Linked DNA regions of Homo sapiens. The protein of the gene in region 2 purifies or fractionates together with the protein of the main gene of each other region. This does not show direct contact. Each region holds a gene or a part of one and is shown on either strand. Other genes may lie near its edges. The genes, in order: RPL22, RPP38, IGF2BP3, PSMA5, YBX2, VASP and RPP30.

The links.
Region 1: the proteins of RPP38 (region 2) and RPL22 purify together in Homo sapiens (co-immunoprecipitation; one large-scale study listed by IntAct). This does not show direct contact.
Region 3: the proteins of RPP38 (region 2) and IGF2BP3 purify together in Homo sapiens (co-immunoprecipitation; one large-scale study listed by IntAct). This does not show direct contact.
Region 4: the proteins of RPP38 (region 2) and PSMA5 fractionate together in Homo sapiens (co-fractionation; one large-scale study listed by BioGRID). This does not show direct contact.
Region 5: the proteins of RPP38 (region 2) and YBX2 purify together in Homo sapiens (co-immunoprecipitation; one large-scale study listed by IntAct). This does not show direct contact.
Region 6: the proteins of RPP38 (region 2) and VASP fractionate together in Homo sapiens (co-fractionation; one large-scale study listed by BioGRID). This does not show direct contact.
Region 7: the proteins of RPP38 (region 2) and RPP30 purify together in Homo sapiens (affinity purification with mass spectrometry; 3 studies listed by BioGRID and IntAct, with this or other methods). This does not show direct contact.

What each region holds. Positions count from the first base shown.
Region 1 is NC_000001.11:6,189,596-6,193,095, forward strand, and holds part of RPL22 (large ribosomal subunit protein eL22), read right to left. Parts: intron 3,460-3,500; coding exon 3,335-3,459; intron 1-3,334.
Region 2 is NC_000010.11:15,100,355-15,102,555, reverse strand, and holds part of RPP38 (ribonuclease P protein subunit p38), read right to left. Parts: intron 339-2,201; 5' UTR 220-338; intron 1-219. UniProt on the Homo sapiens protein: Component of ribonuclease P, a ribonucleoprotein complex that generates mature tRNA molecules by cleaving their 5'-ends. Also a component of the MRP ribonuclease complex, which cleaves pre-rRNA sequences.
Region 3 is NC_000007.14:23,341,492-23,344,991, forward strand, and holds part of IGF2BP3 (insulin-like growth factor 2 mRNA-binding protein 3), read right to left. Parts: intron 2,363-3,500; coding exon 2,227-2,362; intron 699-2,226; coding exon 573-698; intron 1-572. UniProt on the Homo sapiens protein: RNA-binding factor that may recruit target transcripts to cytoplasmic protein-RNA complexes (mRNPs). This transcript 'caging' into mRNPs allows mRNA transport and transient storage.
Region 4 is NC_000001.11:109,419,949-109,423,448, forward strand, and holds part of PSMA5 (proteasome subunit alpha type-5), read right to left. Parts: intron 1,979-3,500; coding exon 1,912-1,978; intron 1-1,911. UniProt on the Homo sapiens protein: Component of the 20S core proteasome complex involved in the proteolytic degradation of most intracellular proteins. This complex plays numerous essential roles within the cell by associating with different regulatory particles.
Region 5 is NC_000017.11:7,291,840-7,295,804, forward strand, and holds the start of YBX2 (Y-box-binding protein 2), read right to left. Parts: upstream 2,801-3,965; 5' UTR 2,662-2,800; coding exon 2,391-2,661; intron 1,700-2,390; coding exon 1,636-1,699; intron 221-1,635; coding exon 187-220; intron 1-186. UniProt on the Homo sapiens protein: Major constituent of messenger ribonucleoprotein particles (mRNPs). Involved in the regulation of the stability and/or translation of germ cell mRNAs. Binds to Y-box consensus promoter element.
Region 6 is NC_000019.10:45,513,979-45,517,478, forward strand, and holds part of VASP (vasodilator-stimulated phosphoprotein), read left to right. Parts: intron 1-3,500. UniProt on the Homo sapiens protein: Ena/VASP proteins are actin-associated proteins involved in a range of processes dependent on cytoskeleton remodeling and cell polarity such as axon guidance, lamellipodial and filopodial dynamics, platelet activation and cell migration.
Region 7 is NC_000010.11:90,881,974-90,885,473, forward strand, and holds part of RPP30 (ribonuclease P protein subunit p30), read left to right. Parts: intron 1-3,500. UniProt on the Homo sapiens protein: Component of ribonuclease P, a ribonucleoprotein complex that generates mature tRNA molecules by cleaving their 5'-ends. Also a component of the MRP ribonuclease complex, which cleaves pre-rRNA sequences.

The DNA.
Region 1 (3,500 bases), on a different chromosome or scaffold from region 2:
GGGAAAAAAATCAGGTTAAAAAAAAAAAAAAAACCCTGTACAGGCCAGGCAGGGTGCCTCATGCCTGTAATCCCAGCACTTTGGGAGGCCGAGGCGGGTGGATCACCTGAGGTCAGGAGTTCCAGACCAGCCTGGCCAACATGATGAAACCCCCTCTCTACTAAAAATACAAAAAATTAACCGGGCGTGGTGGCAGGCGCCTGTAATCCCAGCTACTCAGGAGGCTGAGGCAGGAGAATTGCTTGAACCTGGGAGGCGGAGGTTTCAGTGAGCTGAAATCGCGCCATTGCACTCCAGCCTAGACAAGAAGATCAAAACTCGTTTTCAAAAATATAAATAAATAAAAACCCTGTACAAATTCAGAGACAGAAAAAGTTCTAGATTCGGGACACCTTGAACCTTTCAGGAAAATTAACTATTATCATCAAGAAAGGAAAGCTGTAATAGATGATTAAGGCACCTTCCCTACTCCACTGGATAAAGAACAGAAAGTTTGTGAAAACGCAAGTGACGCATGTCAGGAGATACCCTCACCCTGGTAAACAGGTCACAGAAAGGTAGCAGAATCTTCCCCAAGGGCTCTGCTACAGCCCAGCAGGCCGGACGCTTTGTACCCCCACCAGAAGCCCCATTCTCACTGCTTCCCAGGCAGACTGTGAGGACTTCACTTAAGCTTCAAAGTCTCTTCTTCACGGACATAGCTAAACATAAAAGCATTAACTACAACCAATTTGTACTAACATACCTTAAAATTTCCCACCACTTGATTTAGTATGTTGGTTTTCTTTTGTTTGTTTTTTTTGAGACAGAGTTTCGCTCTTGTTGCCCAGGCTGGAGTGCAATGGTGCTATCTTGGCTCACCGCAACCTCCGCCTCCCTGGTTCAAGCAATTCTCCTGCCTCAGCCTACCCAGTAGCTGGGATTACAGGCATGCACCACCACACCCAGCTAATTTTGTATTTTTAGTAGAAACGGAGTTTCTCCATGTTGGTCAGCTGGTCTAGAACTCCTGACCTCAGGTGATCCTCTGACCTCGGCCTCCCAAAGTGCTGGGATTTAGTATGATTAAAAGCTCCTAACAGGCCACAGCCCCAGGCTAGGAGCTGAGTATATGCATATCCAATTCTTCAGCAACTGGTAAAGTATTTTAACCTCATCCTCAAAAACCAACACATAACAGAGGAGGGAACTAGCAAATTAATGTCTCCATTTTGAAATGAAAGAAAATGGGCCCCCAGGAATTAACTAGAGTGGACTCTGTCTAAACTGAGGTCTTCAGATTCCTTGTTCAGTGCCAAAGTAGCACTTACAAGGGAAACAACTGGAATTCAAAAGGAAAGCTCTTGGTCAGACACAGTGGTTCATGCCTGTAATCCCAGCACTTTTGGGAGGCCAAGGCAGGTGGATCACCTGAGGTCAGGAGTTCAAGACCAGTCTGGCCAACACGGCGAAACCCCGTATCTACTAAAAATACAATAATTAGGCCGGGCGCGGTGGCTCACGCCTGTAATCCCAGCACTTTGGGAGGCCAAAGTGGGTGGATTACGAGGTCAGGAGATCGAGACCAGCCTGGCCAACATGGTGAAACCCTGTCTCTACTAAAAAACAAAAAAAATTAGCCACGAGTGGTGGCAGACACCTGTAATCCCAGCTACTCAGGAGGCTGAGGTAGGAGAATCGCTTGAACCCAGAAGCCGGAGGTTGCAGTGAGCCAAGATCACGCCACTGCACTCCAGCCTGGGTGACAGAGTGAGACTCCGTCTCAAAAAAAAAAAAAAAAAAAAAAAAGAGGCCGGGCGCAGTGGCTCACGCCTGTAATCCCAGCACTCTGGGAGGCCGAGGCGGGCGGATCACGAGGTCAGGAGATCGAGACCATCCTGGCTAACACGGTGAAACCCCGTCTCTACTAAAAATACAAAAAAAAAAAAAATTAGCCAGGCGCAGTGGCAGGCGCCTGTAGTCCCAGCTACTCGGGAGGCTGAGGCAGGAGAATGGCGTGAACCCGGGAGGCAGAGCTTGCAGTGAGCCGAGATCTCGCCACTGCACTCCAGCCTGGGCAACAAAGCGAGACTCTGTCTCCAAAAAAAAAAAAAAAGAAATACAAGAATTAGCTGGGTGTGGGCCAGGCGCAGTGGCTCATGCCTATAATCCTTGTACTTTGGGAGGCTGAGGCAGACGAATCACCTGAAGTTAAGAGTTCGAGACCAGCCTGGCCAACATGGCAAAACTCTGTCTCTACTAAAAATACGAAAAATTAGCCAGGCGTGGTGGCACATGCCTGCAATTCCAAAAACTCGGGAAGCTGAGGCAGGAGAATCGCTTGAACCTGGGAGGCAGAGGTTGCAGTGAGCCAAGATGGCGCCACTGCACTCCAGCCTGGGCAACAGAGCAAGACTCGGTTTCAAAAAAAAAAAAAAAAAGTAAGCTCTTACTGTGATCTAGAGACAGGAGGCAATTTTTTTTTTTTTAATTGAGATAGGGTCTCACTGTGTCACCCAGGCTGGCCTGCAGTGGCACAATCACAGCTCATTACAACCCTAACCTGCTGGGCTCAAGCCATCCTCCCACTTCAGCTCCCCAAGTGGCTGGACTACAGGCACATGTCACCATGCCCAGCTAATTTTAACTCTTGTAGAGATGGGGGTCTCACTATGTTGCCCAGGCTGGTCTCAAACTCCTGGGCTCAAGCAATACTCCTGTATCACCCTCCCAAAGTGCTGGGATTACAAGCATAAGCCACTGTGCCCAGCCAAGAATATTTTTGAGAAAACAGTCTTGAAAGCAAGTCTGAGTACCTTACTGTTTAAAATACTTTAGCCTGGCCGGGCATGGTGGCTCAGGCCTATAATCCCAGCACTTTGGGAAGCCAAGGCGGGTGGATCACTTGAGGGGAGGAATTTGAGAGCAGCCTGGCCAACATGGTGAAACCCCCGTTTCTACTAAAAATACAAAAATTATCCGGGCATGGTGGCAGGTGCCTGTAGTCTCAGCTACTCAGGAGGCTGAGGCAGGACAACTGCTTGAACCCAGGAGGCGGAGGCTGCAGTGAGCCGAGATCGCGCCATTGCACAACAGCCTGGGCGATGGAGTGAGACTCCAGCTCAAAAAAAAATAAAACACTTTAGCCTGTGAAAGACAAAATTTTAAAACCACCAAAAGTTGACTATTGTTAACAACCATAATAGCATTCATCCACTGCCTCCTGCACTGAGCATAGTTCCAGAAATTAACAGATGCAAACCAATCACTCTGCGGGTGCCCCCACTCCCATGCAGGGAAAAGGCGGGCTGGGCACTGGGTGCACGCAGGCCACACACACACTTCCCTCCTGTACCTTTTGGAGAAAGGCACCTCGGATGTCACGGTGATCTTGCTCTTGCTCCTTTCGATGGTCACCACCCCTCCACCAAGGTTCCCAGCTTTTCCGTTCACTTTGATCCTTTCTTGCAAAAACTGCTCCTGTAGAAATCATTAAATTGACCAATGAAGTGACAAGTTCA
Region 2 (2,201 bases):
TCTAACTTGTTACTGTTTTCCAAAATGCTATCTAGTTGGGCTTCCATGCATTCACTCAACAAATATTCTAGGCCTGGCACACTGGCTCATGCCTTCAGTCTCAGAATTTCGGGAGGCTGTGGTGGACAGATCACTTCAGCCCATGAGTTCGAGACCACTCTGAGCAAATGGAGAAACCCTCTACAAAAAATACATAAATTAGCTAAGTGTGAGGCGTACCTGTAGTCCCAGCTACTTGGGAGGCTGAGGTGGGAAGATCACTTGAGCCCAGGAGGTCAAGGATGCAGTGAGCGTGATTGTGCCACCACACTCCAGCCCAGTAACACATCTGACCCTGTCTGCAAAAAAAAAAAAAAAAAAATGATCTGAGCACCTCCAGTATGCAAGTGGTGTTCTAGGTCCTGGGGCTCACAGTAAGCAAGACCCGATGTCCACCCACGTAGAGCTCCCAATCTGCAAATACTCTGGTGGCCTCTGCCATTCACAACCAATCAGGTGTGATATTTTAAAGAACTGAACAGTCATCTCATGATTAAAACTTCAAATAACACTGTCACGTCCACTTTTGTAAGTCTCCCCACCTCCCAGGGCCCTAAATTTCTTGAATATCCTTCCTACAGCATTTGATACATATGCAGGCATACACTCCCTTTTTTTTGTTTTTTGAGACGGAGTTTTGCTCTTGTTGCCTAGGCTGGAGTGCAATGGCATGATCTCAGCTTATTGCAACCTCTGCCTCCCAGATTCAAGCGATTCTCCTGCCACAGCCTCCGGAGTAGCTGGGATTATAGGTGCCCAACACCACGCCTGGCTAATTTTTGTATTTTTAGTAGAGATGGGGTTCACCATGTTGGCCAGGCGGGTCTCGAACTCCTGACCTCAGGTGATTCACCCACCTCAGCTTCCCAGAGTGCTGGGATTACAGGAACGAGCCACCACTCCCGGCCAGTCCTCCTTTTTAGGGGGACCCCGAGCTGACTTCTCTGGCTGGCAATTCCATGAAGACTAGGGAAATGTAATGAAATTTAAAGATACTAATCCATTGAGGAAAAATGAGTAGAAGGATGCTTAATGGGGAAAATGTTATAAACTATTGGTCCAGAGGGCATATCCTTTTATCCTTCCCAGAGGCAACTACACACTCCCTTCTCTTCCCTCAGTTTTCTTCCCTTCCTTCCTGGGGCTCAGCTAGAATCACAGGGACCCACCTGGCAAAACTAAAGGAAGTTATATCCTTTGCATTTATACTACCACTTACTAGGCTGGCAGCTGATGTTGAAGGCAAGTGTGTCTGTGCAGTGTATCGCTGTATAAAGCACTCTCTCCATGTATTATTTGCTTCTTACAGCATTCCTATAGAATCCCCCAATGTGTGCATTAGGAAACTGACTCACTGCCTAAAGTCACAACTAGTTTTCCAAATCCAAGTTTTCTGTTCTTTCAATCCTTGCTACACCTCAAAAATAACCTGTGGCTTCTTAAAACATGCAGATGCTTGGTCCTCAACCCAGATCTACTGAATTGGAATCTTCAATAATAAGGCCTGGGCATCTGTGCTTATAAAAAGCTGCCCCAGGCCGGGTGCAGTGGCTCACGCCAGTAACCAAAGCACATTGGGAGCCCAAGGCGGGCGGATCATAAGGTCAGGAGTTCGAGACCAGCCTGGCCAATATGGCGAAATCCCGTCTCTACTAAAAAATACAAAAAAATTAGCCAGGCATGGTGGTGCCTGCCTGTAATCCCAGCTACTTGGAGGCTGAGGCAGGAGAATCTCTTGAATCCAGGAGACGGAGGTTGTAGTGAGTCAAGATCGCGCCACTGCATTCTAGCCTGGGCGACAGCAAGACTCCATATCAAAAAAAAAAAAAAAGTTGCCCTCGTGAATCTGATTCAGAGCCGGAATCAGGAACCACTGGTGTAGGACAGGGTGTTTCCACACTGGACAGCCCCGAGAAAGGGCCCCCTGAGCGCTATTGGTCTCTGATATTCTTCCCAGACACTTTCCCACAGAAAAGCCAAATTCAGCTCCTTAGGGTGAGAGATCACACCCTGGTCATCTCGGTACAGCAATCCTGGAGACTTCTGGGGCCTAAGCTGCTTCCTTCACGGTGGCCACACTGTGTCCCCTGACCCCATTATCTCTATGCTCCCCTAGAGCTCAGGAAATCAGGAAGAAAAGTGGCTCATCCAGATGCAATGCA
Region 3 (3,500 bases), on a different chromosome or scaffold from region 2:
CCTGTCTCTACTAAAAATACAAAAAAAGTAGCCGGGTGTGGTGTGGCACACACCTGTAATCCCAGTTACTCAGGAGGCTGAGGCATGAGAATCATTTGAACCCGGGAGGTGAAGGTTGCAGTGAGTCAAGATTGTGCCACTGCATTCCAGCCTGGGCGAAAGAGTGGGACTGTGTCTCCAAAAACTTTTAAATAACCACCATGGCACATGTATACCTATGTAACAAACCTGCACATTCTGCACATGTATCCGAGAACTTAGAATAAAAAAAAAAGAAAAAAGAAAAAAGAAAAAAAATTTTTTTAAATAAGAAAAACAATTACTAAGTTTCTTCCCCTGCCACCTCAAAGTCCCAAACTTTTGTTGTGATATTTGAAAACACATGTTGACAACCCCGCTATCCAAAAACTGCAAAATAATCCCATGTCTACTCCACAAAGGGCCAAATAAGAAGGCTCCATTAGCAAGAACTGGAGAGCATATGTTGGCATCTAAACAGATGATCACGCGGGGACTAGGTTTACATTAAGATTTTGCCCAATCACAAAGAAAGCCAAGGCCAGTTATCTTACCTCAAACTGCGGGTAGGGAGGAGTCATGGCTGAAGGGGGCCCTGAGGTGGGAGGTGGCATCCCTGAAGTGGGTGGGAACAGACCCAAGGCGTTCAGATTTAATCCAGGAATTAAATGTGCTTGAAGCTGCAACAGTAAAAAGGCCCCTTAATTTGACAATTAAAAGAATCAAGGGAAAGTGAGCATTTTTAAGTGACAGTATTCAAACTGATCTCTTGTCTAATAAAGAAATGATTGTATAACTCAAAGCAGATGTTCCATGGGACTCTACTTGAGTACATCGTTTACATCTGTTTATATCCCTTGGTATTTTAAAATCTGTGTGCTGGTTTGCCCCCTCCTTGGTCCACAGCTGCATTAAGATATCTCAAGGGAAGCTTTCCTTTCCCTTATGACTAGCCCACAGGACTTAGACAAAACCGTATTCTGCATGCTGTGGGCAAACTAAATATAGACAAAAAGCAATGTATCAGAGTTGAAGAGGTAATCAAGTAAGATTGGTTCATTGAAAAGCAAACCAGCTATTAAGAGATCTTTACTTGCTGGGTAAAACTTAGCAACCATGGGTCTAGAGGCCTCAAAGTTGAGCCCTCTGGAAATCAGGACCCATCCCCATGTAACTACTGCAAGTAAACATATCACTGGAATGGAAATAGGAGCCAGAAAGGGTATTTTAATTTGTTTAATTTTATAAGGGTTGAGGACGTAATGTAGACGGTGGAAGGGAGATTTGAGTGTACTTGAAAATCTTTTTAAAAGGCCTAAGGGGGTTAGATTTAATCCCAGTTGATTCCAGAACATTTGGAGCCAAGCAGTGAGAATTGAAGCAGGTTGGCAAGAAGTCACGTGGGGTGTAAAATGGCTAGCATTCTAGGCTCTTCTCACAAACGCAGTATTTGCACATTTCCCTCGTCTCAGGTTTTGTGTTTCAGATGACTGGCCCAATTGAAAAAAAATTATTTTTTAAAGTCATTTACTTTAAAATTTAAGACAGGCTTTTGAAGTATTCCATTTTCAGCACCATTTCACTGATTAAGGAATGTCAGCAATTTGCTTTAATAGCCTCAGATGCACTACACAGATTGTTTTATCAATTGAAATTCTTGTATCTCCAAGGTTTATATGGCTAACCAAGTTTTAAACCTGTAATCTTAACATTAACTTTTATATGCATTATATCTATTGTAATCCTAATAAGAATGCAAGGTAGGCAGTAGTCCCATTTTACAGATGAGTAAACTGAGCCTCAGAGAGACTGAGTAAATCATATAAGAGAAGAGAGCTGCAGCTCATAAATGGTTCAGCTGTGATTCAAATCCAGTTCATGTAACATTTCTTCTATATTAAACTCTCTCAAATTAACATTGTAAGAGAGGTACTATATTAACCTTTGTAGGTAGACACTAGCCTTACTTCAGACAGAAGGAAGCTAAGGCTCAAAGACTGAATAATTTGCTAAAGTCACAGAGACAGCAAAGCTTAATGTCAAAGCCAGTATCTTCCCTACTATCCCAGGGTACTTGCTGAGGTGCTAAAAATCAACTAGAACTACTTCTAGTGATAATGCCACAAAAGAATTCAATATTAATGCAGTTAAAAACATTGTTTTAACTATTTGTTAAAATAAAGACATGCCCTTCATAACAAAACTAACATTCATAGAAGCAATATCATTTTCATAAGACTCCCTGATTTTCTTCATGATCTCCTCCTCAGCTTTGGCACATGTCTCAACATTGCCTTTAACTGTAATAGTGCGTTCTGGATTATACAGCGTCAATTCCTGCAATCTGCAGAATGAAAAAGAAGGGAAAGAAAAAGAATGAAAATTGGAGGAAGACAGCTAATAATTCAGCCACAGACGGCAATTAAAAACAAACTGTGGAGCCTGGTAATATGTAAAAGTGGGTGGTAAAACATGATGGGAAATGAGTAAGCCCCAAAAGACGTAAATCCGAAACTGTAAAGCTGCAAGAGAGAAGAAAATATTTGCCCTCCCATTTTCTCAACTAACGATTACTGGATACATATAGTTCAATCAAGTCCATATTTTAAATAAAGCTTACTTCTCAACCGCTTAAAGTTGAACCATTTTCACAATTGAACAGTGAATTAAAAAATGACTGGAAAGATGTATAGTTTTTGAGGAAACCAAATACCCTAAGTACATAACCTTTCATAAGTATGTTCCTAGTCTGTATTAACCAATTCTAGGCATAATTGGCATTCTCGTGCAATTGCATTTTCTGGGTCACCAAGCAAGGAGAAAGCATGGAAATATTCCAAAAACACAAGCCAGAATTCCTGTGTCTAAACTTAGTTTTTACCAGTTTCTTTAGAATTTAGATTGAAGTAGGCTGGAGGAATATCAATCCATCTTGACTAAAATTTAAAATGGTTCACCGATGCCATTTAGATAACAAAAACGTTAGATAGTGGCAGAAATATTCAGAAACTCCCTGCGGGACCTAGGTCCTGCTGAACCTTCAAAAGCCACTGAATATCATACCTGAAAACACCTAAGCCTATGCTGGTCAACAGCCTTGAGAGGAAAAGCAATGGGAGACATGTGCCATGGAAAACAGAACTAAGTACATAAATTGAGAGGATATGGATTATTGGTACAAATCTCCTTCATCTTCCTGAAGTTCTCATTTTCACTACTAGTATAATGTCACAGGCTAACCTTGAGCCAGATGAATGGGAAGTTATTCCTTAACATTTTCCTCAAACTTGTTAAAAATGTAAACATTTGTATAATGAAGACTATTTCTCTTAGACTACTTTAAAAAGAAGTCTATAATTCTAATTCAGTCTCAACCTGGCCCTGCCAAGCATTTTGTATTACAGTTTTAAAAATAGCTGCTTCTAGAATAACTTTTGAGATTTTTTTCTTTTAAAACTCTCCCCTTTCTGGGGGTAAATTTA
Region 4 (3,500 bases), on a different chromosome or scaffold from region 2:
GGTGACAGAGCAAGACTCTGTCTCAAAAAAAAAAAAAAAAAGGAATCCTTAATAGGACACTTAATTTGCCTGAATGTTTTGAGAGGATACATGTAACCTGGAGAGACTTTGGAATGCATTATTGATCATCCTAAATTAAGCAAATATTTTTAAAAAGAGAATTATTAACTCCAAGAAAAACAATGTTGTGCAGAAACAGAAAAATAATTATAAAATGCAAAATGGCTCAGCTGTGAAAAGCATTTAGTTATACTAATGTAACTATTGACTAATGATCTTACAAAATTATGATATTCATGATATATATGGAGAGGGTCACCCTATCCCCACCTCAGAAGACAATTGTGTGTGGTGGGGAGTAGGGGTGTGGGGTTAGGGCAGAAATCTTCATCTTTCATAATGAAAAGTCCATGGATAATGCCTAATAAAAAAAAACCATACATCTGTGTTATAGAGATATGGAGGTACAGTCCTAGAACATTACCAGCTGAAACAATTTAAAGTGTTGCCTCTGAAAAGCTGAACCTAGATGATGCAGGCCTCAAGAATTGCTATTTTTGTTACAAGGTTTATAGAACTACTTTGCCTTCTAACTCTGAAACTACATGCATGTATACCTTAAAAATCAAACAAATATATAATCAGAAACCATTGCCAGAAAACTTAATTTAGCACTTAGTTGTTCTCTAATTGTTTTATGTATAGTATACTGATCTTGAATCCCTAACTGAACAGAGTAGGACAGAATTCATATATACTTTTTATCTAGAAGAGTGATTCTCAATTGGGGGCCCTTTTGTCCCCACCAGACATTTGGCAAAGTCTGGAGACATTTTTGATGGTCACAACTGAAAGAGTGCTACTGGCACCTAATGGGTAGTACCCAGGAATTGATAAACATGCTAAAATGTACAAGATGGCCCTCCACAACAAAGAATTATCCAGTCCACGCCAGGTGTGGTGGCTCACACCTGTAAATCCCAACACTTTGAGAGGCTGAGGCAGGAGGATCACTTGAGCCCAGGAGTTTGAGACCAACTTGGGCAACATAGCAAGACCACATCTCTACCAAAAAAAAAAAAAAAAAAAAATTAGCCAGGCATGGTGCACACATCTGTACCCTAGCTGCTAGGGAGGTTAAGGTGGGAGGAAAGCTTGAGCCCAGGAGTTAGAAGCTGCAGTGAGCTAAGATGGTGTCACTGTACTCCAGCATGGGTGACAGAGTGAGACCCTGTCTCTAAAAAACCACTAAAACAAATCTCTTATTTAGTCCCTAAGGTGACTTTACCAACAAGAACACAAAGGTGGGCTGTGCGTGGTGGCTCACGCCTGTAATCCCAGCACTTTGGGAGGCTGAGATGGGCGAATCATTTGAGGTCAGGGGTTCGAGACCAGCCTGGTGGTACTGGGAGGCTGAGGCAGGAAAATCACTTGAACCCGAGGGGCGGAGGTTGCAGTAAGCTGAGATCACGCCACTGAACTCCAGCCTGGGCAACTGAGAGAGACTCCATCTCAAAAAAAAAAAAAAAGAAAGAAAAAGAAAGAATACAAAGGTGGTCAGATACATGATTTGCTAAAGAAAACAAAACAGAAAAAGTAATACAGGTGCTAATTCTGGACTTCTGTACCTCTCTTTATAGCTAAGAGGATCAAAAGCACAAATATGTCCCTCCACCCCCACTGAGAAAAAGCTATTTAGATAATTATGAAGCAGTTAACTGCTCAAAAAGTTTTAAAATAGATATTAGGAATAGGATTGAAACTGTTATAAAAATGGTTAACAGTGGTTGCTTAAAGGGATATAAGAACATTTTCTAAAGGAATGGTTAAACCACATTTACTCCAAGTGTTCTGCCAGCAAAATGTTAGGTAGCCATGAAATTTCAGGACCTATGCTACTTGCTACTATACCTTGATAGCCTCAATGGCATATTCCACTTGAAATAATCTTCCTTCGGGAGAAAAAGTATTCACGCCCCTATAATTTAAAAAAAAATTATTAATTATACTCATAAAAACTAGCCATGTAGACACTGAATTCAAGTTCCTTGACAACTAGCTCAGATAGCTACAGAATACGCACATTGTCATTATTCTCTACTTCGCCCACAACAATCTGTAGCATTTTTTTGTACATTAACAGTTTCTCAAGGCAATGGAACCTATATATAGAACACTTCTGCCTCACTCCCAGAAAGTCTTCCCAAATTGATGAAATGAGAGCAAATGACTTTTCTGCCTCAATCCTGAATCAACTTGGATCCATTCTGAATAGACTTACCAGTTCCTTTGGTAAGTTCATGCCTCAAAACTATCAGCCAATTTCCAAGAAAATGTGCATTTTTCCTTATCCTCTTCCCATAACATGCATATGACGTTAATACTTGGGGTTATCACTCTTCTTTCCATTCTCAATGCCCTCATTACCTTTCACCTAACGTTTGTAATAGTCTCCTAACAGGTATTGACTCGTGGAGCAAGTAGGAAGAGTTTTCCCCCTAATTCAGACAATCTCTATAAAACACAGTTATTACTTTTTTTTTTTTTTTTTTGAGACAGAGTCTCGCTCTGTCGCTCAGGCGGGTGCGATCTCAGCTCACTGTAACCTCCGCCTCCTGGGTTCAAGCAGTTATCCTGCCTCAGCCTCCCCAGCAGCTAAGACTACAGGTGCATGCCACCACGCCCGGCTAATTTTTGTATTTTTAGTAGAGATGGGGTTTCACCATATTGGCCAGGCTGGTCTTGAACTCCTGACCTCGTGATCCACCCGCCTCGGCCTCCCAAAATGCTGGGATTACAGGCATGAACCACTGTGCCTGGGCCTAATTATTACTTTTTACTAAAAGTTAGTCACAGGTACATTTCTCTACTTATTTGTATGAATTACTATTGTTATCTTAACAGACTGAGATCCATGTAGTTCCTAATTCTAACCTAGTTCATTCACTCAATATTTATATAACTTACATGTCAGACTGCTTTCCTCTCTAAACACTTCCCCTTAACACTTAACACTTTCCACCTTTCCTTGCTCAAGTGTGCTGGAAATCCCTACGGAGAAGAGGCACCAATCATGGTCTCAGCTATAAAAGCTTTGAGCACACAATGGACACAAAAAATATGTGAACAAATGAATGAGATGGTTGCAATCCGTGGTTTATGGAGTCCAGACTTTACAACAGGTAACATGTCATATAGTAGTGCTTTTGGCCTGGCGTGGTGGCTCACGCCTGTAATCCCAGCACGTTGGGAGGATGAGGCAGGCGGATCACCTGAGGTCAGGAGTTCGAGACCAGGCTGGCCAACAAGGTGAAACCCCGTCTCTACTAAAAACACATAAATTAGCTGGGCGTGGTGGCAGGTGCCTGTAATCCCAGCTACTTGAGAGGCTAAGGCATGAGAATCACTTGAACCCAGGAGGCGGAGGTTGCAGTGAGCCGAGATGGTGCCACTACACTCCAGCCTGGGAGAGTGCTAAGCACAAGTTACTTCCAAATCTC
Region 5 (3,965 bases), on a different chromosome or scaffold from region 2:
AATTCTGACGGACGTTTAGTAACCCAGCACAAGTGCGGCTAATGGTGGTTGACACAGGCACCCAAGGCGGATGGGCCGTTGTGAAGAAGAGCCAGAGAAACATGGCGGAGCGCACTGCTAAGGATTACAGCAAAGGCCTTCAAAGACGGCCGGTTCTTCCCCTCAGAAAGCTAACCTAGCTCTTACCTGGTGAACAAAGACATCTTCCTTGGTGTCATTCCTGCAGAACAGGATGGGTCGTTAAGGAAGGGACTTCAACAAAGCCCTCAGCTCCTCACTGAGGTCCCCCTAGATGCCCAGTCTAAGCTCAGTGGGCCCATCCTCTCCAGCATTCCAGTTAGGGGTGGACATGGCCTGGGGAATGGGAGGGAGAGCCAGCAGGGCCCCCAGAAGCTGGTGTAAAGAGAGATACACCTAAAACCTCAGTGCCAAACCTGGACTTCACAAGGAAAGGGCAGGCTGGGGAGGCAAAGGCACCTTGAGGAACCTCAGACAGCTCTGCCCCTGCCGGGACTCCACCTTCCACCCCAGGCTAGCCTTACAACCTGCCAGCGCTGGGTGCAACTGTCCCTGGCCAACACCCCCTCCCCCAACCCCCATCAGGGTTGGAAAATTCCAGTCTTCTTCCTTCTATAGTCAAGGAGGCAGAAAGTGCAGATGGGGCCAGAGGGGCAGAACAAGTTTGAGAAGGGAACAATGTGTCAGGAACTTGCTCTAAACAGCTGCCAAACTTTATTCTCATCCTCAGCCTGGAGGTGAATCCCAGAGTCAGGACCACTCTCAACACGCGTGGGACCAAGGGTGAGAGAGAAGAAAACATTCACCCATTCTCTATCATAAGAACCCCAGTGGGTGGGGGGAGGGGAGAAAGGAAAAGTTTTCCTGGAGGCACTCTGCCCCCGACCCAGTCTGCCATTTCCAGAATTAGACAGGGACCCTTCCCCAGAACAAACGTTTTAGCTTTAAAGCACTTGGATCTGCACAAAGGTCAGCCTGCTAAGAGGGAACTAGGGCCTCCCAGGAGAGCCAGGCCGGGCAGGATGCCTGGGCTGGGGAAGGGCCCACTGGGGGAGACCTGGCTCTGCTCAGAATCCACTGCCACAGCCTCTCCCGGTGCTGAGGGGTGGGGCTGCCTACTGAAGGAAAGCAGCAGCCTCTGGCTCCTTCCTCCTGACCCCCACTGTCAGCCTCAGTCCCAACAGGTGGAGGGCTCGAATGAGCCACAGCTCTTTAAGGGAGTTGAGTTGTGAGTGCTGCCATAACAGGAAATCAGTTGAGGATTCCAGCCGGGGGCCCTGAGGCACAGAGAACCCTATAATACATTCTGCCCCAAAGGCATGTCAGAGTAAAAGTAATGAAGCAATTCCAGAAGGTGAGATGAGAAGCTGGCAGGGTCAGAGCCAGGTTTGCCAAGTTCCTGAATCATTAATCCTCCGCTACCCTTGAAGATGCGGAGGAGGCTTCCTCTTGTCACGAAGCACACATTTGTGCTGCGGTTAAAGGCTTTCAACCAGCATCAGCTGGACATTGCAACCATGTGCCTCCGCAGGGGTCGATGAGGTTGGGCGGGTGTCCAGTCCCACAGGCCAGCTGGGAAGACACCCATTCCACCCCCGCCCTGGGTTCCTTGGATACCTGTTGATGAATCCGTAACCATTCCGGACGTTGAACCATTTGACAGTGCCCAGGACTTGGATTGCTGCCAGGCAGAGATGCAGTGGGGACAGTGAGATGGGGGGAAGAGATGGAGTTGAACTCAGTTTTGAGACACTCCAAAACAAAAAAAAATCTAGCCTACTGCCTTATTACCTATTCAGGTTACCTTCAAGCCAACCAGGTTTCACTAGTAGCTTCAAGGTATTCCTACCCTAGTCCACCAAATGAAATCACCCACACAGGGACTCAGGCTTTCAAAAAGCCTTCCAACTCTAAGTCACGTTCCCCACATCCTACAAATCCAGCCCCTTCACCTAGAACTGGGTACTCACCTGGTCTGCAAAGTGCCGCCCCCAGGTCATAACTGAGGGTTTTTCTAGCCCTCCCAATGCAAGGGTCCCCAGTGCACCTGCTTGCCAGGCTCAGAGGTTTGCCTAGTTCTAACCCAGTCAACTAGGCACTGTGTCCCGCCCGGGGGCGTGGCCGGACCCTGGGGCTTTATTCTCCACCCCAAGACCTTAGCTGAACCTGCCGGCCCCGCCCTCTCTCCCAGGAAGGTACGGCAGGATTTCCCACCAGGGGAATCCACTTTGGTGCGCAGCTCCCAGCCCAGTTAGCGCTCTGGGCCTGCGGGCCAGGCCGCCTTTGGTTTTCCGGATCCTGCCGGGCTCCACACTGCCCCTCCCCCAGCCCGCCGACCCCTCAGAGCCGCCCTGTGCGCGCCTGCCCCTCACCCAGCACCGGCTTGTCCGCCTGACTCCGGGCCGGGGGGGCGGGGGTTCCCGAGACCGCCGTCGCCGGATTGCCAGGGGTGCGGGAGCCCGGCGCCGAGGGGGTCCCAGCAGCGGGGCCCGAGGCGGCTCCGCCCCCGCCGCCCGCCCCGCCGCCTTTCTGCGGCTCCCCTGCGGGCACCGGTACCACCACCGCTACCACCCCTGCCGCCGTCGCGGGCACCGTCGCCGCGGGGACCGCTGTAGCCCCCGCTGCCGCCTCCACCTCGCTCATCCCGCCGGGTCCAGTACCGGCCACAGCCGCCACCGCCCCGGCCCCTCCCCCCGGCTCGCGAACCCACCGCCCTGCTCGGTCCTCGCGCCCCGAGCCTCGCCCACACGCCGGCAGCGGGCCCGGAGCCGAGGCCAATGGCAGCCCGCTGCCGCCGCTCGCGCAGACCCCGCCTCCCGACCACGGGCCAATCCCAGCCCAGCAGCACCCCCGGACCGCACGCCGACCCCGCCTCCCGGACTTCGCACCGCGGCCCCGGCCCCCGCCAGCCGCCCAGTAAGTACACCTGGGCCCCGCCCCCTGGCCGCCACGTGACGGCCCCCGGCCCAACCCATTGGCCGGCGGCCCCTTTCCCCTCCCCCCTCCGCCCCTTTCCACCGGCCGCGGGAAATCAAACGGGCCGGTCGCGCCCCAACCGCCACCTGGCCTCTGCGGGAAGGGCGGGGCCGGGGCCGCAGTGCCAAGGTTGCCCCTAACGACCTGAGCGAGGGGCGGGAATCTGCAGCCTCGGTTCTGGCAGTGAGTAGCACCGCTCGCCTCCACCCTCGAGACCGACCTTGCCCGTATGCTGCCAGGTGCAGACGCCTTCCGGCCACCACCGCCCTTGGCACCCTCTCCCCACAGGACGGCCCTGCACACCCTGGGGCTGCGGGATCCAACCGCAGGATAGGCTGGAAAGCGCAGCAGAATGGTTTTCCCGGCTCACACTTGCTCCCATGAGCCAGGACCCCCTACTTTTCTTTTTTCTTTCTTTTTCTTTTCTTTTCTTTTTTTTTTTTTTTTTGAGACAGGGTCTCGCCCTGTCGCCCAGACTAGAGTGCAGTGGCGCGATCTCGGCTCGCTACAACCTCCGCCTCCCTGGTTCAAGCGATTCTCCTGCCTTGAGCCACCTCAAGGTGGCTCCCGGCCTGCCCCTACCTATGTTTGTATTGGAAACAAGGTTTACAAGTAGTACAATGCGCAATTCTTCTTCGCTGAGTTTGTTTGTTTGTTTGTTTTGACACAAGGTCTCCCTCTGTCGCCCGGGCTGGAGCGCAGTGCGCGATCTGGGCTCACTGCAGCCTCTGCCTCCCGGGTTCAAGCGATTCTCCCTCCTCAGCCTCCTGAGTACCTGGAATTACAGGCTTGCGCCACCACAACCTGGCTAATTTCTGTATTTTTAGTAGAGATGGGGTTTCACCATATTGGCCAGGCTGGTCTCGAACTCCTGACCTCTGGTGATCCGCCCGCCTCAGCCTCCCAAAGTGTTGGGATGACAGGGTAAGCCACCGTGCCCGGCCTTCGCTGAGTTTTGATCAATGTGTCCA
Region 6 (3,500 bases), on a different chromosome or scaffold from region 2:
TTTTGGCAGCGGAGACAGACAAATATTGTGTTGGGCAGGGGTCACTGCTATGAAATGTGCAGCAGGGGATGAAAAGGAGAGAAGCGTTTCCAGCTAAGGGAGTGAGGGACGGCTTCTTGGAAGGGGTGACATCTAAGGAGAGACCTGAAAGTGGGGAGAGGCTAGGCCTGAGGAAGAAGCAGCACACAGGCCCGAGGCAGGAATGTGTCTGGCCTGCGGGAAGAGCAGCATGGGGGTAGGAGGTCTAGGGTCTGGAACAGAGTCCCCAAGGGACAGTGGAGCGGGAAGAAATGAGATCTGAGGACACACAGATCACGGAGGCCCTGGAGAGAACTTGGCATTGATTCCGTAGGAGCCTGGAGCCTTCAAGAAGAAGAAGAGACATCCCACCTTGTAGGTTTTTGTTAGTTTGTTTTGTTTTTTAGAGATGGGGGGTCTCACTGTGTTGCCCAGGCTGGTCTTGAACTTCTGGACTAAAGCAATCCTCCCGCCTCGGCCTCTCAAAGTGCTGGGATTACAGGCATGAGCCACCGTTCCCCGCCCCACCTCGTGTTTTAACAGGATCCTTCTGTTACAATGGGTATAGTGTTCCCTGGAGAGGGGCAAGACCACCCCTTGGTCACCCAGCAGGCGCCCTGTTCTCCGGCCAGTCCAGAGCCTCAGTAGGGCAGGGCTGCCTGGGAGAGCAAAGTGCAGCCAGGGCGGGGCAGCAGCAGCCCCGGGCTCCTGGCCAGAGTCGGCCCTGGGTGTGGGTGGCAGGTGTGGGTGAGGCCGAGGCCTTAACCCTGCCTTGCCAGGGGCAGCAGGAGCCAGAAACAGCCCCCGAGGCTGTGTTTGTCTGGAAAGGGCACCTGGTGTTTGGGTGGGGCCCACACAGTTCCCGGTGGTTAAGGCTTGGAAGCCTGAATTCACATCTTCACTCTATTCCTCAGTAGCTGTGTGACTGTGGGCAAGTCACTCAACCTCTCTGGGCCTCTAGTCCTCACCTGCAAAATTAGAATGAGTGGCTCTCTGGATAAGCTGCAGTGAGAATAAAATGAGTGACTTTGGGGGAGGGGCTTAAGGCCCCTGATCCACCTGAAATGCCTAGTAAGAGGGAGATGGCACAATTAGGTAAATTTGAGGGTCCCTACCCCAGGTCCCTACCCACAGCTGAGTCTGCCTAGGGACTTTCCCTGCCCTGACTTCCCAGCATCAGTGTCACACCCAGCCCCCAGCCCTCCTAGAGACAGAGGCTTTGCGGGGGGTGTCTAATTTCTGTCCCCGGAAACCTCTGACCACCAACTTCCCCATTTCAGGAAAAAGCCTGGTGTGGGTGGGGTGGGGAGGAGACCAGTGCTTCCCCTTCCCCTGTGTGACCTTGGGCAAGTCACTTCCTGTTTGAGTTCCTGTCTAGGCCTGAGTTTCCTCACTGGGGGAGAGGGGATTGAACCTCCCAGAGGGGCTGGTGGGAGGGTCCCGAGGGTTGTAGCTGTCCCGGGCCCCAGTGGTGCCCATGAGAGGGATGTTGACAGTTACTGAGCTCTCGGCGTGTGCTGGACGCTGTACCAAGCACTTAGCTTTTTTTCTTTTTTTTGAAACAGAGTTTCACTCTGTCGCCCAGGCTGGAGTGCAATGGCGTGATCTCAGCTCACTGCGGCCTCCACCTCCTGGGTTCAAGCGATTCTCCTGCGTCAGCCTCCTGAGTAGCTCAGACTACAGGTGCACACCACCACGCCCAGCTAATCTTTGTACGTTTTTGTAGAGACGGGATTTCACCATGTTGCCCAGGCTGGTCTCGAACACCTGAGCTCAAGCGATCCATTCACCTCAGCTTCCCAACATGCTGTAATTACAGGCGTGAGCCACCACACCCGGCTGTACCAAGCCCTTTAGGTGCCCAGATTCATGTGCCCCTCCCCCACTGCCCTGGAGGTGGGGACTGTCATTTTCCCAGTTCACAGGCAAGAAGAGGTCTTGAGTGGGAAGGTCATGTGCCTGAGTCACATGAAGTAGGTGGCTCAGTGGGGATTTGAACCCAGGTCTGGGGATATCAGCTCCTGAACTCTGCACCAGTTTACTGACACCTCCCACCCAGGCTAAGTCAGACGTTGCCTTTTCCAGGAAGTCCTGCCTGACTCTCCAGGCTGGGGCAGGCGTTCCTTCAGGGTACCCCCAGACCCTGGGCTCCTTGGTCCTAAACCTGGGTTGGTACCGTCTGGGGACAGCTGTGTCTCCCACACTGGACTGTGAGCCCCAGGAGGGTGGTGCCGGAGCTGTCTGGGTCACTGCTGTGTCTTCATCCCCAGCCCCACCCAATATAGGCCAGACACAGAGCAGGGAGTATCTGGGGAATGGCCGCTAGTGCCCTGGGGAGCCAGGCGAGGGGTGGGCAGCGGGAAGTCCCTTTGGAGGAAGAGCTCAGAGGTCTGGGATGGGTCCCCAACCTGCTGCAGGCCTCACACTTCCCCTCCCAAGCCTCAGCTTCTTCCTGAGCAGGCAGTGGTGGAGGGGGGTGCGTAGAGATAGGGAAACTGAGGTCAGGCAGGGGCTGGTCCCTAGTGCAGCTCTGGGCTCTTGGCCTCCTTCTGGCCCCTCTGTCTTCCCTCCTGCCCTCTGCTCTGCTAACCCGCATCCCCCCACTGGCATTGGCCTCGGCCTCTTACACCCCTCAGCCTGTCTCTCCATCTTTATCTTTTCCTTCTTATTAGTTTTGTTGTGTTGTGTTTTTTATTTTTCATTAAAAAAGTTTTTTTGTGGACTGGGTGTGGTGGCTCACCCCTGTAATCCCAGCACTTTGTGGGGCTGAGGCAAATGGATCACTTGAGCCCAGGAGTTCGAGACCAGTCTGGCCAACATGGTGAAACCTCGTCTCTACTAAAAATACAAAAAATTAGCTGGGCTTGGTGGTGCATGCCTGTGATTCCAGCTACTCAGGAGGCTGAGGCGGAGAATGGCTTGAACCTGGGAGGCAGAGGTTGCGGTGAGCCGAGGACAGCCCGGGTGACAGAGTAAGACTCTGTCTCAAAAAAAAAAAAAAAAAAAAAAAGATTAGTCGGGTGTGGTGGTGCATGCTTGTAGTCCCAGCTACTTGGGAGGCTGAAGTGGGAGGATCGCTTGAGCTCAGGAGGTCGAGGCCACATTCCAACCTGGGTGACAGAGAGCAAGACTCTGTCTCAAAAACAAAAATAAAAATAATAATAATAATTATTATTATTAGAGATGGGGTCTCACTATGTTGCCCAGGCTGCTCTGAAATGCTTGGGCTCAAGTGATCCTCCTGCCTCAACCTCCAAAGTGCTGGGATTACAGGTGTGAGACACCACGCCAAGACCATCTTTATCTCTTTCTGTGTCTGCCTCTTCCTCCAGGTCCCCTGTCTGCCCATCCTTTTTCCCCACCCCTCCCCCATCTGTTCATCTGTCTGTCTGCCTTCAGTCTGTCTCTCCTCTTTGTCAACCCGACTCTCCCTTTCCCACCTCTCTCTGCGTCTGTCTCTTGCATCTCGTTTGTGTGTTTGC
Region 7 (3,500 bases), about 76 Mb from region 2:
CAGAGTATCCGGAAGATGTCTCATAGAAACTCCCTCTCCATAGCTACTTAAGGAGATAAGGCAGAGATTAAAGATTTTGAGGGGGTCCATTGGTTAGGGCTCCTTGGGATGGGGGACAGCTGTGGAATATGACACAGAGAGAGAGTTGCATAGAAGCTTCTGGAGCTTCTGGACCAATTAATTATTCCCATTTAGGATTTAAAGCAGCTGAGCAGGTTGAGGAGAATTCAGGTTATTTAGTCCAGTGGTCTCTAACCTGCTTTGATTGTGCACCCTATCAGTTTAAAAAATTTTTGAGCCTGCTTCCAAATATATATATGTTTCTTATAAATTATTCGCATCTCTCATTATACCAGTGTGCCTTATAAAAACTACATACACACAAAACAGATCTTAAGATAGTGAATTAAAAATTAAATGGGCCAGGCATGGTGGCTCACGCCTGTAATCCTAGCACTTTGGGAGGCCGAGGCAGGCAGATCACGAGAGGCCATCCTGGCTAACACGGTGAAACCCCGACTCCACTAAAAATTCAAAAAATTAGCCAGGCATGGTGGCGGGCACCTGTAGTCCCAGCTACTCAGGAGGCTGAGGCAGGAGAATGGTGTGAACCCGGGAGACGGAGCTTGCAGTGAGCCAAGATTGCACCACAGCACTGCAACCTGGATGACAGAGCAAGACTCCGTCTCAAAGAAAAAAGTAAATGGAGGCTGGATCCAGTGCCTTGTGCCTGTAATTCCAGGACTTTGGGAGGCCGAGGCAGGATGACCACTTGAGGCCAGGAGTTCAAGACCAGCCTGGGCAACATAGTGAGACCCTGTCTCTATTTTTAAAAAATAAAAGTAAATGGAAATAAAAGTTTTATTTTCTTCCTGCTCCTGAAATTCATGCCTTTCCTTTGCAGAGGACTGTTGTAGTGTCTTGAGGAAGGGAGTGTCCTGGTGTTACTTGCAGTATGGTCTGGCTCCACTGGCTTTAGAATTACCTGGGATATTTATTAAAATGCAGATCATTAGGCCATACTTAATGAATCAATGGAGGTAGGGCCTGGTTGTCTCCATTTTTGATACATTCTTTAGGGGAGTTTTGTACACATTAAAGTTGAGTGCCACTGTTGATGGGCATCTCTCTTTTTCCTTGGTAAGCCTGATTGTCTCTTCACAATTTATCAAACTGATACCTTTGAAAGGGATTCAGGGAGGAATATGAACCCCTACAGTCCTATTCCTTTTGTGCCATAGAGGCAAAGATGTGTATATATGTGTGCATTTTTATGGGAATACGTTTTCTTTAAATTGTCATAGGAGTCTCTGGCCAAAAAAAAAAAAAAAAATTGGTATGGACAACTGATGTGAATTATTATGTAACCTACTAGTTTTCAGAGAAAACCATTATAAGATTCTTAACCCCAAGGCTCTATTGGGCATAATTTAATCTTCTAAAATGATATAGAAAGCGTTTCATTGTAGTGTGAACATTAACTTTTATTTTGTGGTTATCTAAAAGTATTGATTGAACATTTTGGTTAATAGAAAACTAAATAACAAAATAATTCAGTTTGGGGCATTCTAAGGTTGAAGTGTCAGAGGGAGCCATGTGGAGCTGTCCCTTGTAACTAAAAGTTTATTATAATGCATGTATTTGCACGTACTTAAACCAACATAGAGCCATTGTTTAATTGGCCACTCTTATGTAGGAAAAGGGAAGAAAGGAACAATGTGTAAGTAAAAAGTAACCTAATTTAGCTTTATTCTGGGGAGAATGTTTAACAGGCTTTTAAAGAATTAATCACCTTTTTAAACTGAAGAAATAATTTACATTCACAATGATTAATTTAAACAGTACAAAGGTACTGAAAAGTATGCCTTACTTCCACCTAAAATTCCTTCCCCATTTTTTCCAGAAGCAACCACTAGTAATAGTTTTTGTGTATCTTTTTAGAAATATTATTTACCTCGTCTTTTTTTCCTTTGTTCTCCCCTTTCTCCCTTCCTCTTTCCTTCCTACCTAACACCATGCTTCTTTTACCTTACAGTTTCTTAGAGGTTGTTCCATAATATCCATTAGAGATGTACATCATTTCCTTTAATGAGTTGGCATATTCCATCATATAAAGGGATCATAATTGAAGTAAAATTGAGGGATGTTTAATTGTGTCTAGTCTTTCATGATTGGTATTGCAATGACTGTCATTGTACTAATGTCCCCTGAGCCTTTGTAGGGTATATAGCTACGTAATATATTTTTAGAGTCTCTGCACTTATAGAGACTTCTCTATAGGAGACTCCACTTATACCTACTACATACCTATAAGTAGAATTGTTGGTGTGTGCATTTAAAATTTTGGTAGCCATTGCTAAAATGCTTTTCAAGACCTTATACTGATTTAAAGACCTTTTGAGTGCCTGTTCATTCATTCTCATGTCAGCAAGGTAGTACCAAACTTTTTTATCTTTGCCAGTATGATCGATAAAAAATGGTGAACAGAGCTGAATTTGTTTCAGCTATCATTCAGAGCTTTTCTTCATCCACTCTTATTAAATTTTCAGTGACTCTTTTATGAGTTGGACAGCTGTGGCAGTTGGGATGGGGCAGATTCTTTATGAGCCAAGTATTTCTGCCAAAACAACATTGCTTCCCAGGCTTACTAAGTTACTATGACTGTCTTAAAGCTAGCCAGCCTCTGATCTCTACTTCCTAAAGCCCTGGGGTTGGAGTAGGAGTGACTGAAGTGGGGATTCTGAAGAAAAAGGGCAAGATACGGTATTCCTGTCATTGCCGAAGGTTGGCACCAATCCTATAGGTCATTTTCTCCACTCTTCCTTACTCTGCCCTTTCCCCTGGTACATGCCACTGATGTTGTTTGTCAGCGTAGCCATCCTGGAAGTTTGAATTTGTCTGTCAAGCCTGTACACACTAGCATTGTCAGTAAGCTTTGTTTTTAATGTAATACATAACAGCCAAATATTTTTATCACTATAAATCAAATAATGGCAAAATCAGAGCCAGGTATGTTTCTTCCAGCAGTGTCTTCTGGCTTGCCCTCTACACTAGTAACCTTTTCCCAGCTTTATTTTTCTTCCCTGATTTTCCATTTATCCTGATTTTCTTATCTGTTTATTTTATCTTGTATGTGGTTTTCATAAACAGTTTCAAATCTCTTTGAGAAGAAAATGCAGAGTATTACTCAACAAGTCATAGCAAAAATTAAAACAACAGAAAGGGAAATTAAAAGTTGAGAAAATGCATTCATTATCATTTGCTTTGTAGTAGCTCTGCTTTAACTATTTATGTAGATTCCTTCTATTAGTATTTGAACAAATGTCATGAGGTGCTGTGTTCATATTTCTTTAGCTACTCAGTAGACTTGATAGGAGCCACAGCCCTGGGACAATTCTTGGCACAGAGTTGCTCAATAAATAGTGTGTGGGATAAATGGACTATGCATACATTCCATTTGGCTTATTTTTTCCTTGGGTTTTAGAATAGTCAGTTTCTTC